Linked DNA regions of Homo sapiens. The protein of the gene in region 1 purifies or fractionates together with the protein of each later gene. This does not show direct contact. Each region holds a gene or a part of one and is shown on either strand. Other genes may lie near its edges.

Region 1 (3,820 bases):
CACAAGGGCTGGGGAGGAAAAAAAGAATAGGACAAAGTTTTCTGTCTTGTTTCCAATATCTCTTGCGGTGGCAATTCCTTGGTTGGCCTCATGGCTTTTTGTTATGGTCACTGCTCCTCAAATTTTTATATTTCTTCAGAATTTTGGCTTTGGATTGAGTTTGGGTTCAAGAGGTAGAGCTCAAAATTATAATTTAAATTCATGATGAGTCCATGCTGCTCTTAATCCGAACCTTTAACACAAATCTCTGCAAATATTAAGATACGCCACGTCTTATCTTGTTACTGCCCCTTTCCCACCAATACCAGGACCCTAAGAATATAATCTATGTCAATGTTCTGTTCTCTGATAGTTCAGATCCCTTTTTGATACAGTCAGATTATTTAGTCCTCATCCTAAATGTAGCATCCAACTTAGGTGGGGAAATATTCAAAGCTGTGAGAATATAGCACTAGTTCTTAAAGTGTTGGACTCATGAGGAATTCCTTAGGAGACAAACTGCATAGTAAAGGATAGAGGTTGAGCGTCCCTAATCCAGAAATCCAAAATCGGAAATGTTCCAAAATCTGAAACTTTTTGAGCACCAATATGACATTACAAGTTACCCTGAACACACTGTATTAATGGTATGTCATATTTTCTGCTTTTAAGTACTTATGTGTGAAAAAGTAAGAAAATAACTGCCTATCAGTAGCATATAAATTCAGAGTCAGGAAGATGGTGATGCCAAACAATCATATTGTCCACATGGGTGGCTGTGATAGTGACACCTTTGTTTTCTGATGGTTTAATGCACACAAACTTTGTTTCATGCACAAGATGATTTAAAATATTATATAAAATTACCTTCAGGCTATGTGTATAAAGTGTGTATGAAACACAAGTTTTGTGTTTAGACTTGAGTTCCATCCCTAAGATATCTCAATATATATATAATGCAAATATTCCAAAATCTGAAAAAAATAAAAAATCTAAAACACTTCTGGTCCCAAGCCTTTGGATAATGGGTACTCAACCTGTACAAACTTTGGAGCCAGATGGCCTAGATTTGGATCCTGATTCTGGCACTTAATAGCTGTGTAACTTGGGCGGTTACTTCTCTTTGCTTCAGTTTCCTCATCCACCAAATAGGCACATTTTAGTTGCCTCACACAACTGTTTTGAGTCTTAAATAAGAATTTATGTTAAGCAGCTAGAACAATGCCTGGGATCTTGTAAATAATCAATAAATATTAGATATTTCTTTTAGGATGTTTCAGATTGGCTATTTATAAAAGTTTATAATATGTGAATTTCTTGGCCAGGCAGGTGGCTCATGCCCATAATCCCAGCACTTTGGGAGGATGAGGCGGGAGGATCAGTTGAGGTCAGAAGTTTGAGACCAGCTGGGGCAACATAGCAAGACCCCATTTCTACAAAAAGAAAGTTTAAAAAAATGAGACTCTCTTTGTGTATTTTTTTGCTAAATTAATAGTACTTAATTTCCTTTAAAATTGTTGGTTCTTAATTTTCTTTAAGATTGTTGGTTCTTTTTGATATTTTATTTCTACTCTATCACTCCAGGATATCTGAGGTCTAATGGTTAACCATTTTTTTATTGTTGGGTTAAGTCAATCGATATCTCTTAGTTTCAGTTTCCAACATCTGCAAAACTGTTCATAATAGGATCGAGATAATCTTCCCACAATCATTTGACATTTTAAATTTTACTGTGACAAAATGATTATGATGTGTACTTTGTCACGTATTATCATTGTGGCCCAGGCTAGTTAAGAGTTGGAGATAGCACAGAAAATTCATCTTGTCATCCCTCATTTGCTTCCAGGCTGCCACCTAAAAGACTTTGGAGATTTGAGTTTTACTCCAGTCCCCAAAGATGATCTCTACAACAACCTGATAGTGAATCCACGCTCAGTGGGTCTTGCCAACCAGGAACTGGCTGAGGTGGTTAGCAGAGCTGTGTCAGATGGCTACAGCTGTGTCACACTGGGAGGAGACCACAGGTAAGCTGGGAGCCAGGCGTGGTGAGGGGATGGATTACATGGTGCTTGGGGCTCATAACTTAGCTTCTTTATCTGTTTCTTCATCTGGAGAAAAATACCCTACAGAATTTTTAGGGTAGATATTAAAATGAACAGCAAGCATTTAAATGTCTAAGATCCTGAGCTGCTCAAGGGGCACTGTGGTTTTCTTTGTATGACACATTGCACAGTAAGAATATGTACATTCAGACACAGCAAGTTCAGAGGTATACTAGGCAAGGTTCCTAGGCACTGTGTTAACATGCTTGTCTCCTGGAAAGCTTTCTTGAGACTTATCTTATGACTTTGGAGAATTAGAAAGATCCATTGATAGGCTGAATGTGCAAGTTTTTGTTAGCATTTCTGCTAATAGACCTGTTAGAAATCCCCTTTGGCATGTTACTACATTTTCTTTTTTTTTTTTTTTTTTTTTTTTTTTGAGATAGGGTCTGGCTCTGTTGCCCAGGCTGGAGTACAGTGGCATGATCTCAGCTCACTGCAACCTCTGCCTCCTAGGCTCAAGCCATCTTCCTACCTCAGCCTCCCAAGTAGCTGGGACTACAGGTGCATGCCACCATGCCTGGCTCATTTTTGTATTTCTTGTAGAGACAGGGTTTGGCCATGTTGCCCAGACTGGTCTCGAACTCCTGAGCTCAAGCGATCCTTCTGCCAAGGCCTCCCAAAGTGCTGGGATTACAGGCATGAGCCACTGTGCCCAGCTGTGGATACATTTTCTGCCTCCACAATATGGACCCTAGTGACTCATGCAATCAGTCCTTTGATCCTGTCTCCTCCTGAATCAGCATGTACTTTATTGAGCACTGTTCTGATATTTTCTCAGCAGTGCTAGAGATTGCAGGAAATTTGTGATATATTAAGGCCTAGATGAAATAAATATACATGGAATAAACAAAAATATTGAATTCTACAGAATTTCAAAGGAGGAAGAGATCAGTCTGGACTAAAATAGATTTCACAAGGGAATGTGATTTGAAATAAGCAATGAAGGTCTTCAGTAGGAAGAAGGCACTGAAGTACTAGGAGTATTGAGCACTCCATACATATTCTCAGTTAATTCTGCTAACAATGCTAGGTGGTAGATATGGTTTTATCATTTACTGCTGGAAGCATGTAGGGACAGATATATAAGAACTTATCCAAGGTGGGCACAGTGGTGCATGCCTGCAGGCCCAGCTACTCAGGAGGCCAAGGTGGGAGGATTGCTTGAGCCCAGGAGTTTGAGGCCAGTCTGGGCAACACAGTGAGATCAGGTCTCTTAAAAATAAATAAATAAGAAAGAAAATATAACTTATCCAAGGACTAGAACCAGGAAATAGAGCTGGGATTCAAATCCAGTGTGACTCTTCTGGTGATTATTTTCCCTGAGGTGCTGAGAAAGCTTTTCAGATCACTGAACAGAAATGAAATCTTTGTTACATCTGGAGAAGCAGGTAGATTCCTCCTTGGGAGTAAAAAAAAAAAAAAAAAAAAAAAAAAAAAAGACTCAGGTTGAAGAAAACGGTCACACCCAGGTTCCCTACTGAGATGACTAGGCCATTCAATTAAATCAACCAGAGGGCAAGTCTCCTGCCTCCTTTCTCAGTGTAGTCTCTGGAAATTTATTAAGTCTGTCTGCTGTTCTGAGTTCTGGTCAAGTCTCACTGTTTGGGGACCACTGATCAATGTGATTACCACAGATCTTGTTTTCTTTTCCTGTGGCTATCTATATTGCAGCCATGTTACTGCTTACCAGCTCAATGTTAAAGCTTAGGCAATCTGAAATTCTAGAGAGGAAGAGA
Region 2 (3,820 bases), on another chromosome or scaffold:
GTTTTCCAAACCTTTCCTCCTGATTAAATGCCCTTAAAACTTAAATCTCTTGTTATCTTCAGTTGTGATCTAGTCCCAAGTGGAAATTACGTTTAGCTTTAAAACCATGAATTTAAAGCTCAAGCCTGTAGCTGGCTGCCTAGGCAGCTTATGATTAGTTTCACAGAATAGCACCCACTGGCTACACAGGCCCCAGTTTTTTTTTCTTTTTTGTTTTTTTGAGACAGTCTCGCTCTGTCGCCCAGGCCGGAGTGCAGTGGTGTGATCTCAGCTCACTGCAACCTCCACCTCCTGGGTTCAAGCAATTCTGCTTCAACCTCCCAAGTAGCTGGGATTATAGGCACATGCCACCACACCCAGCTAATTTTTGTATTTTTAGTAGAGACAAGGTTTCACCATGTTGGCCAGGTTGGTCTCAAACTCCTGACCTCAAGTGATCCACCCGCCTCAGCCTCTCAAAATGCTGGGATTACAGGCATGAGCCACCATGCCCGGCCTCCCAGTTTTCATGATGAGGAAGTGATGGTAGCTTTTCATCTGCCCAGAAGTTAACTTTTGATGGATTTGCCTTCTAAGGCATCAAACATGTCTTCTAAGGCCTTCTCCACACATTGGAGAAACTCCCGGGCATTGCGGCCTGGGTAGGAAGAGACATTGCAGCCTATCCAGTTGTCATGAACAGCATACCCAACACCAAAGCCATCAGAGACCACAGGGGCAAAGCCCCCAAGGTTCACTGCTGGGCTGCTCAGTGTGCTCGTGGACAGGACATTGTGGTTTATCTGCCCGTATGCAGGGTCCAGGTAGAGCTCAGGCAAGATGATCCCTTTGGCTGCTGCCAGATGCCGCAGAGCAAACAAGTGTCGGTCAAAGCCCTGGCCTGTGAGAAACAAAATGGAAAACCAGAGTCTCAGGATGGAAAAGGACCTCAGGAAAACCTCCCAACTCACCACATGGTAGGAATACCCCTCACAGCATCCTTGAGAGTGGGGGAAGGCTCTACCTCTATGCACACCACCAACTGACTAACCTTCAGAGCAGCTCAAGCTAGATTATTTTAAATTATTTAGGAAATATATTATGTCATGTTACATTTAAAAATAGCTGTCAACAGCTGAGCTAAAAATGAGCCTAAAAGGAAAGCATAATTTTAAAGATGTGAAATCAGTTTAGTCAAAGAGTCAAGACAGTACAGGAAGACAGCTATGGACTCAAAAACTACAATAAAACTAAAAGTCTGATTCAAGTGTAAAAGAGAAGATTGAGTCAGTGGAACAAAATGGAAAGTCTGTTTGACCAGGGTTCGAATCTCAGTCTTACTACTAACTTGCTGTGTAACGGGGCCAGTGGCTTGGTTTTCTCCCTATAAAATGGAGGAAGAGAAGATTAGAATGTCTTGGAGGTCCCTTTCACTTCCAGCACTTCATAGCAACATGAAAGGACAACTATGACCCTCCAGGTCCTTTCCAGGTCTTGAATTTTATCAAAAAAAGGTAATGACGGATGACAATTGAGAAGAGCTTCTGAGATAACCTGTTTACAGAGAGCAGACACATTACAACTGAGGTGAAGCTAGTGGGGCCGTAAGTTTAGAAATCCTAAATTTTCAAAAGTGAGTCTGATAACCAATCAGTAATAGAAAAAGGTTGGGTGCAGTGGTGCATGCCTATAATCCTAGTGCTTTGGGAGGCCAAGGCAGGAGGATTGCTTGAGCCCAGGAGTTTGAGACCACCTTGGGCAATACAGTGGGACCTCATCTCTACAAAAAATTTTAAAAATTAGGCCCGGCATGGTGGCTTACGCCTATAATCCCAGCACTTTGGGAGGGTGAGGCGGGTAGATCATGAGGTCAGGAGTTTGAGACCAACCTGGCCAACATAGTGAAACCCCGTCTCTATTGAAAATATAAAAATTAGCTGGGCATGGTGGCATAAGCCTGTAGTCCCAACTACTCAGGAGGCTGAGGCAGGAGAATCGCTTGAACCCAGGAGGCAGAGGTTGCAGTGAGCTGAGATTGTGCCACTGCACTCCAGCCTGGGCAACAGAGCAAGAGTCCATCTCAAAAAAAAAAAAAAATTAAAATATCAGCTGGGCATGGTGGTGCATGCCTATAGTCCCAGCTATTTGGGAGGCTGAGGCAGGAGGATTGTTTGAGCCAAGGAAGTTGAGGTTGCAGTGAGCCATGATTGCACCACTGTACTCCAGCCTGGGTGACAGAATGAGACCGTGTCTCCAAAAAAAAAAAGGCCAGGTGCGGTGGCTCACGCCTGTATTCCTAGAACTTTGGGAGGCTGAGAGGGATGGATCACCTGAGGTCAGGAGTTCAAGACCAGCCTGGCCAAAATGGCAAAACCCCTTCTTTACTAAAAATGCAAAAACTAGCCAGGTGTAGTGGCGGGTGCCTATTATCCCAGCTACTTGGGAGGCAGAGGCAGGAGAATCACTTGAACCTGGGGGTGGAGGTTGCAGTGAGCCGAGATCACGCCATTGCACTCCAGCCTGGACGGAGGGAAACTCTTGTCTCCAAAAAAAAAAAAAAAAAAGAAAGAAAAAAGAATTAATGCGTCACAGCTGAAAGTGACCTTAAATGAGGACAAAGACACATGCATTTCCCCACCCCTGCTTAGGAGGCAAGAACATTCTGATCCCTAGTGGCTAGTGTGGCTGTTCAGACTGCTAGGGTAGAAAAGAAAAATTTGGGGAGTTGGCGATGGATTAAACCTAGTGAACGGGTAGAAATCAGATTTGGAGTAGAATGATTTAGGCTTGCTTACCCAAGCACTGAGGACAAGACCCAAGGGCATGCTCCCCACCCCTGCCTCACCCATTGCTGCTTCTTTGGTCAGCTGGCCATGGTACTTGGAGCACTCAACCATCATCTGCTGAAGCTCACCAGCACTGTGCCTGGAGGGCTCCCTGACAAAGGCCTCAGAGCACCTCTTTGTATAGACGGAGGCCGGGCGGATGGTCTCAGTGCGGCCGTGCTTGAATGCGGCAGTGCTACAGGACTCGTAGGTGGCCACTGTCTGCCCGTACTGCCGCAGGAAGGCCATCTGGAATGCCAGCTGGGCAACTGCGTCAGGGCTCAGCTTTTGCTTCTTCAGGAATTCTTTGCCTCCTCTCTGAAACTGGACGCAGTCAATAGTGAGGGTTTTCATGGTGGCATCAAACTTTTCCTTAGCAGCTGTGATGCCAGTCTTTAAGGCATCAGTCAGCTCGAAGTTGAGTTTCTGCACCGTGACAGTAGAGTCAGTGGTAGCTGGCTGGCTCTGTGGAGTGACGGCAGGGGTCTGAGTGCTGTCTTTAAATACTTCATTAAAAAATCTGAGCACTGCCACACCATCACCCCAAGAGTGCTCAAAGTGGACGGCAGTAGAGCCATCCTTGGCGATAATGAGGTTAAAGGATTTATCAAACCAGCGGTTTGTGCCATCCCCATGCAGCATATTGTGGGACAAGTGGACAAGGTCCTTAATGGGGAAGTCATCTAGGCAGAGACAGAACACTGCCGAGTCCACTTTCCTCAGGCTCTCCTCATTGCCACTACTCATCAGCTTCTGCCTGAGCTCTGCCCAGATGTCTCGGTTCTCACTGGTCAGGTATGCCAGGGGAAACTCGGGGGCGGGGCTGCTGTCTGAGAGAATGTACTTCAGATGTGCCTGGATTTCCGAGGGGCTCACAATGTTCCCATCTTGATCCAGGACATCAAAGATATAAAAATTTCCTTTCCTTAGGACCAGGAGGTGTCTGGCCTTGTCATCAGTGAAGAGTTCATCCCGACTGGGTTTGGGTAAACGAGTTGAGTTGAAAAGCCGAAAAT

The links.
Region 2: the proteins of ARG2 (region 1) and CPT2 purify together in Homo sapiens (affinity purification with mass spectrometry, with the first as the bait; one large-scale study listed by BioGRID). This does not show direct contact.

What each region holds. Positions count from the first base shown.
Region 1 is NC_000014.9:67,640,361-67,644,180, forward strand, and holds part of ARG2 (arginase-2, mitochondrial precursor), read left to right. Parts: intron 1-1,825; coding exon 1,826-2,003; intron 2,004-3,820. UniProt on the Homo sapiens protein: May play a role in the regulation of extra-urea cycle arginine metabolism and also in down-regulation of nitric oxide synthesis. Extrahepatic arginase functions to regulate L-arginine bioavailability to nitric oxid synthase (NOS).
Region 2 is NC_000001.11:53,210,324-53,214,143, reverse strand, and holds part of CPT2 (carnitine O-palmitoyltransferase 2, mitochondrial isoform 1 precursor), read right to left. Parts: coding exon 2,825-3,820; intron 881-2,824; coding exon 549-880; 3' UTR 1-548. UniProt on the Homo sapiens protein: Involved in the intramitochondrial synthesis of acylcarnitines from accumulated acyl-CoA metabolites.